Linked DNA regions of Homo sapiens: region 1 is linked to region 2. The links come from fine-mapping of genetic effects on gene expression. A gene starts in region 2. The other region holds a variant in brackets. All regions are shown on one strand. Distances are from middle to middle. Region 1 has its middle 12 kb from the start of NPR2. Region 2 holds the start of RGP1 (RGP1 partner of RAB6A GEF complex).

The links. PIP is the estimated chance that this variant, and not a neighbour inherited with it, causes the effect.
Region 1: its variant is the best candidate, but not a certain one, in a credible set for the expression of RGP1 in non-classical monocytes (Schmiedel 2018, PIP 0.66).

The regions. Positions count from the first base shown.
Region 1 is chr9:35,778,330-35,781,115 of GRCh38, forward strand. It overlaps a transcript of RGP1 not described here. Among named protein-coding and RNA genes, the nearest start is that of NPR2, 12 kb to the right of the region's middle. The variant C/T (reference allele first, on the strand shown) is at 1,245.
Region 2 is chr9:35,747,859-35,750,644 of GRCh38, forward strand. RGP1 (RGP1 partner of RAB6A GEF complex) reads left to right here and starts at 1,429. Exons shown (of 9, transcript NM_001080496.3): 1 at 1,429-1,550; 2 at 1,879-2,013; 3 at 2,385-2,521. The coding sequence starts at 1,898. It overlaps GBA2 (glucosylceramidase beta 2), which reads right to left and starts at 1,370. Exons shown (of 17, transcript NM_020944.3): 1 at 488-1,370. The coding sequence starts at 846. RefSeq lists silencers at 1,069-1,468, 1,589-1,638, 1,669-1,718.

The DNA.
Region 1 (2,786 bases), 30 kb after region 2:
ATGAAAAAACTGTCTCTTTCATCTTGCCCTTTAGATACCTTGTTCCCCTTCAGGGAGGTATTCGCTGTTAACAGTTTCCAGTCCAAAAGCTACGTTTTAAAGCATAATTAAATTTCTGGCCCCTTCTCTAAAGTCCCTCAATTATTAATCATATTAACTCTGTAGAAGGATGTATCACAACATTATACTGAAAAATAAGCTGAATATACAAAAGTGTTCAAGCAGTCAGAATACTTTGGAATATAATATGACATGTCAAACTGGTGTCTGACATGGATGGCTTCTGGGTGGATGCAAGTCCCTAAATGTCCAGCCTTCCTTTTGTGCATTGGCTTTGCCTGCCTACATACCCACTCCCTCCTCTCGAATGCACAAATAATGCACATTCGCCTTCCTGTTTGCTTTCTCTTAAGCCCAAGGCTTGTTAATCTGGGATCCTTTAGCTCCTAGATCCACGTGCACCTGAAATGATATGTAAAATGTTGTGGAATAATATGTATATGTGCTTTTTATATTTTAATGGGGAAAAGAGAGTATACATGGCTTTCATCTGATGTTCTATCTCCAGTCTATCTCTGTCTTCTTTATTCTGCCTGAACTTTCAAACTCCTGGTTCCTTCTGTCACTCAAAAGATGACTTTGCTTCCCCATTGAGGAATGCAGTTGAGCTCCTTATTTCATATAACCTTCCCTTCATTTCAATATATTATAGAGGATGTTGAGTAAGGTTTTTTTCTATTGCCCTGGAATTGGTGACTAGGGTCCAAAGCTGGGACAAAGAGGACTAAATACTGCACGTTCTAGAGAGAGTTGCTAATAATTGGATCAGAGCTCCTCTCCAGGGCTTACAAAGAGGTAGCAGAAGTGGCCCTGCAACTTCCAGCCAACCCATACCTTACCACCCCACCTCCATTCCCAGGCTATATAAGATAAAAGATGACTGAAGGGAGGCTGTCATGAGCCTAGCAGGGAGTACTTTTCCCTCCTTTCCCCCCTTAAAGTAAGCAAGGGAGTATGAAAGAGATCTACATGAAAGAGAGATTGATTTCTCATTCCTTGGTTAAACTATCTGTTTAGACAGTGGATTTGTTCAGCTCCGCACCTGTCTGAGAAGAGGAAAGGCAATTAGAGAAAGGAGGAAGGGCAGAGTAAGGGGATAGTAGTGGAATAGTCTGCATTCATTCTGTTTGGCTTAGCAAGGGTATGTGAGTTTCTGTGATCAAAGGGACACTGAGGAAGATCGC[C/T]GGGCTTGAGCCATCATGCTGGTAACCCATCCAAAAGGCTGCCACTGAACAGAAGTTAGGAGGGTTAAAGAGATGGCTTGGATCAGGATTCTCTGCATTAGGGCACAACTCAGTGGAGAAGCCCAGTAGGACCTTCTAAAGAACTCACATAACTGTCTCATAAGAGAGCCAGCATCTTTTTTTTTAAGATGGGGTCTGTTGCCTAGGCTGGGGTATAGTGTTGTGATCATGGCTTATTGCAGCCTGAATCTCTTGGGCACAAGTGATCCTCCTGCCTCAGCCTTCTGAGTATCTGGGACTGCAGGTTATGTGCCACCACACTCGGCTAATTAAAAAAAAATTTTCTTAGAGACAGGGTCTCTCTACGTTGCCCAGGCTGGTCTCAAACTCCTGGGCTCAAGTGATCCTCCTGCCTCAGCCTTCCAATGCCTTGGGCTTACAGGCATGAGCCACCATGTGCAAGAAAGATAGCATTTTGACATCTGCCAAACAACAGGTTGGCATGGTCTGTCAGCAAACAGTGGTTTGTGATAACTACCTTGTTAAATAAAAAGAGAGTTGTTCTTTTCCTCCCTGCCCTCCTCCTAGTTCTCAACCACCAAGGAGCTAAAACCCTTCTAGAGAACCTTCCAGAGAACTAGAAGAGGAGAAGCAGAATCAATAGAAGGGATCATATTCTTCTCTCCACCGCAGGTTCCTTAAGCCATGGCTTAAGATGAGTTCTGCATTGGACCTGAGACTGGAGTTTTAAGCCATATCGGACTGAGTCTTTAAATAACCAAAAGGGAGCAGAGTGTTATGGACTCTGACCATGATGTTGTGAAGAGGTACAAAGGAGACATTTGTCATGGCACAGATGAAGACTGATGGGTGGCAGGTTATGTTTATACCTGACCAAGCTCAATGCTCAACAGATAAGTTAAATTTATCCGTCACGAAATCTATCCCTGAATCCATTGTTCCACCTTTCCCTGCAGTCTCAGAGGAATTTCTTTTTCTTTTAAAGTGAATCCCTGGCTGGGCACGGTGGCTCACACCTGTGATCCCAGCACTTTGGGAGGATGAGGAGGGTGGATCACTTGAGCTCAGCAGTTTGAGATCAGCCTGGGCAACATGGTGAAACTCCATCTCTACCAAAAATACAAAACAAACAAACAAACAAACAAAAAACAACCAGGCGTGGTGGTGTGCATCTGTGGTCCCAGCTATTTGGGAGGCTGAAGTGGGAGGATTGATTGAGTCTCGGGGGATGGAGGTTGCAGTGAGCCAAGATGGCGCCACTGCACTCCAGCCTGGGTAACAGAGTGAGACTCTGTCTCAAAATATGACCAAATAAATAAAAATAAAGTGAATCCCTTCATCCATACTCATATATCCATTGAGAAAACATTTATTTGAATTCTAAAATATACTGCCAATGTAAGGTACAAAGATTAAGGACGATAAAATTCCTTCTCATGGAATACACAATCTAATGGGGCAGAAAGTACCTACTTTAAAACAAATGTATTAAATTAAATTGAAAAGTGGCCTGAGTAAGCC
Region 2 (2,786 bases):
GCTTGAAGAAAGAAGCAGTAGTGTTGGGACTCTAACAGTGTGTCTAATGAGGTACAGAGAATGCCCCAGCTGCTTGTGGGAAATAAGGGGTTGAGACCCCCCCACCCCCAAATAAAACAACATTGTGTTAGTATCACAGCAGCCAGATTATCCTTTCCTACCTTGCCACAAAGTATAGCTAATCCCAAAGGGAAGTCATTGGAAACCAGTATGTGAGAAGAGCCTGAATGGGAAAGGCTGATTGCATGACCAAATGTTCCTACCCTTTCCTTCTGAAAAGACAAAACACTGGGAGGGAAGGGTGTTGCAAAGAGATGTGACCTGGTCTCACGGTCCAAAACCACAGGCCTAAAATATGCCAGGGATAGGGACCGCTTCACTCAGACAAGAAGCCCAACTGCTTTCTTGCCCTTTCCCACCTCTGCTAGAAGTTTTGAGCTGGAACAAAGTGAAGCCAAAGGCATTCTAGGCAATGGGGTCTACTCACCTCAAGCCCATGCCTATATGCTTTATCATGTTGCTTAGGGAGACGTTGTTAGCTTGAAAGGGTTTCCTCTTCTCTGTAAACTCATGAGCCAGACAGATGCGCCAGCCAAAGGGAGGCACCTGGTAGCCCATAGCTTTACCCTCATAGGAAACCATCAGCTGCCCAGAGTCCTCCGGATTGCAGCAGTCCGTCTCTTTTGGGGGTCGGCTGTCTTCGGGACTCTTACAGTCTGTAACCTGCACATCCTTGGTGCCGCCAGTCTCTTCAGGGCAATAAACTTGTGGATCCTCTTTGGCACAGCTTATCTGCTCCGAGGCTGGGACGCCGGTTCCCATGTTCCCTGGATCCTGGGTCCCCATGACCTCGATGGCGCCAAGTCCCGAGCCCTCGGATACTAAGTATCTCGCCAGCCTATTCCAGATGCGGGCGCCGGTCGTTGTTAGGTATCGTCCCGGAGGGCCGGGCGTTGGGGAAAGCTTAAATGAGCTGGTGTTTCAGTGGAGCCGGGGAGCTCTTGCTTCAGTGGGGGCGGCGACAGCAAAGAAGCCGCCTTGGGCTCTCCTTCGGTTGTCTCTGTAGGTCCTGGACGGGAAGGGTCGGGCCTCGTCGTCATTGAGCCGACGATTAGCTCGCCCGGCCAAAGGGCGACTGGGCCCGCAGAGAGGGGAGGAGCCGCGGGGCCAGCCCACCAGGCACCGCCCCGGGACGGGCCCGCAAGGCACCGCCCCCGGGACCTCGGCCCGGCCCCTGGGCCACGGCACCGGGTCCCCCAGGATTGGGCGCCAGGTCCCGCCGGCCGGCTCCGGGGCAGCGCCCGCGCCCAGGTGCCAGCCCGTGGGAAGGTGACCCTGGGCGCCGGGATGACCCGAGCCCTTTCCGGTCTGGCCTGCCGGGCGCTTCCGGCCGGAAGGGACTCCGCGGAGGGTGGGGGACCGAAGGGAAGTCCCGCCTCTACCGCCCAGCGGACGCCGCCGCCGCCGCCGCCGCCGCGTACCTAGCCAGGTCCCTGAGGGGCGGGCAGATGAGGCCTAGGGGTGCCGATCCCTAGTGTCGACTATGCGAGGTGACTAGCGGCGGTGATCTTGGGCTGGGACGTGGAACTTTGAGGAAAGGGGGAGCGGAGGCCAGTTTGGGAACTCCGCGGGGGTGCCCAGGGAGAAGAACCCGTCGCACAGGGGCTGGGGTCTAGGGCCCAGAGCGATGTCCTCCCCCTGGGCAGTACTGAGTCTTCAGTCGCCTCCCTCCCACCCGCCTACCCCTCCTATATCCAGGAGCTCCCTCGGGCACCACGGTGCTGACCACCCCTGTCCTCAGCCCTCAGCCCTAGGTGCTCACCGCAACGCCCCTCCCTGTCAAGGTGCTGACCTCCGCCCCGCCTTGTTTCCTTCTAGATCTGATTCCGGAGCTGCCATGATTGAAGTGGTAGCAGAGCTCAGCCGGGGTCCTGTATTTTTGGCTGGGGAGGCGCTGGAGTGTGTAGTGACCGTCACCAACCCCCTTCCGCCCACGGCCACTTCTGCATCCAGGTGGGGATGCTGGCACTGAAGGTGGTGGCCCTTCTGGGAAGAAGCCAGATTATCTCTGGGGCTGAGGCAGAGCTCAGGTTGTCCTGTAGCGACACCACCTCCTCTTGCTCACTGTGCTGTCATTGTAGGAGAGGGCTCTTTAACAGAAGATGTGGATGACATAGCTGTACGCTTTCCTTCCCCTCCCCCGTTCCCCTTTTTACGCACAGTCTGCTACTCTTTATTTAATGGTTTCTCTTTGGGATTGTGGATTTCCTGATCACTAGGACAGCCATCTAACCTTGTTGGTTAAGATGGTGTGATAGGGAGCTTGGGAAAGCATTTGTGAGGTCAGGAACTACCTCTGATGCCTCCTTTTCCTTTTCCCACAGTGAGGCCCTGGCCTGGGCCAGTGCCCAAATCCACTGCCAGTTCCATGCCAGTGAGAGTCGAGTAGCACTGCCTCCTCCTGACTCTAGTCAGCCAGATGTCCAGCCCGACAGCCAGACTGTCTTTCTGCCACACCGAGGTTAGAGAGGGGCATTTGCCTGGGAGAGGGGGGGTGCGGAGGGTGTGTGTGGAGGCATTGTCACCCATGGGTGAAGTTGTTAATTGTTCTTGTTCTTATAGTCCCTGTCATGCTGGGGATGTTGGGGAGCATGACTATTGCTTTAGGGGTAGAAGACTATTCCCATTTCACAGCAGGGACGGAGGGCCTGGCAGCCTTTCACTATCTCCACTTGCCGTGCTAGTCTTGTTCAGTACTGGACAATGGGTCATTAAATTAGTCATTT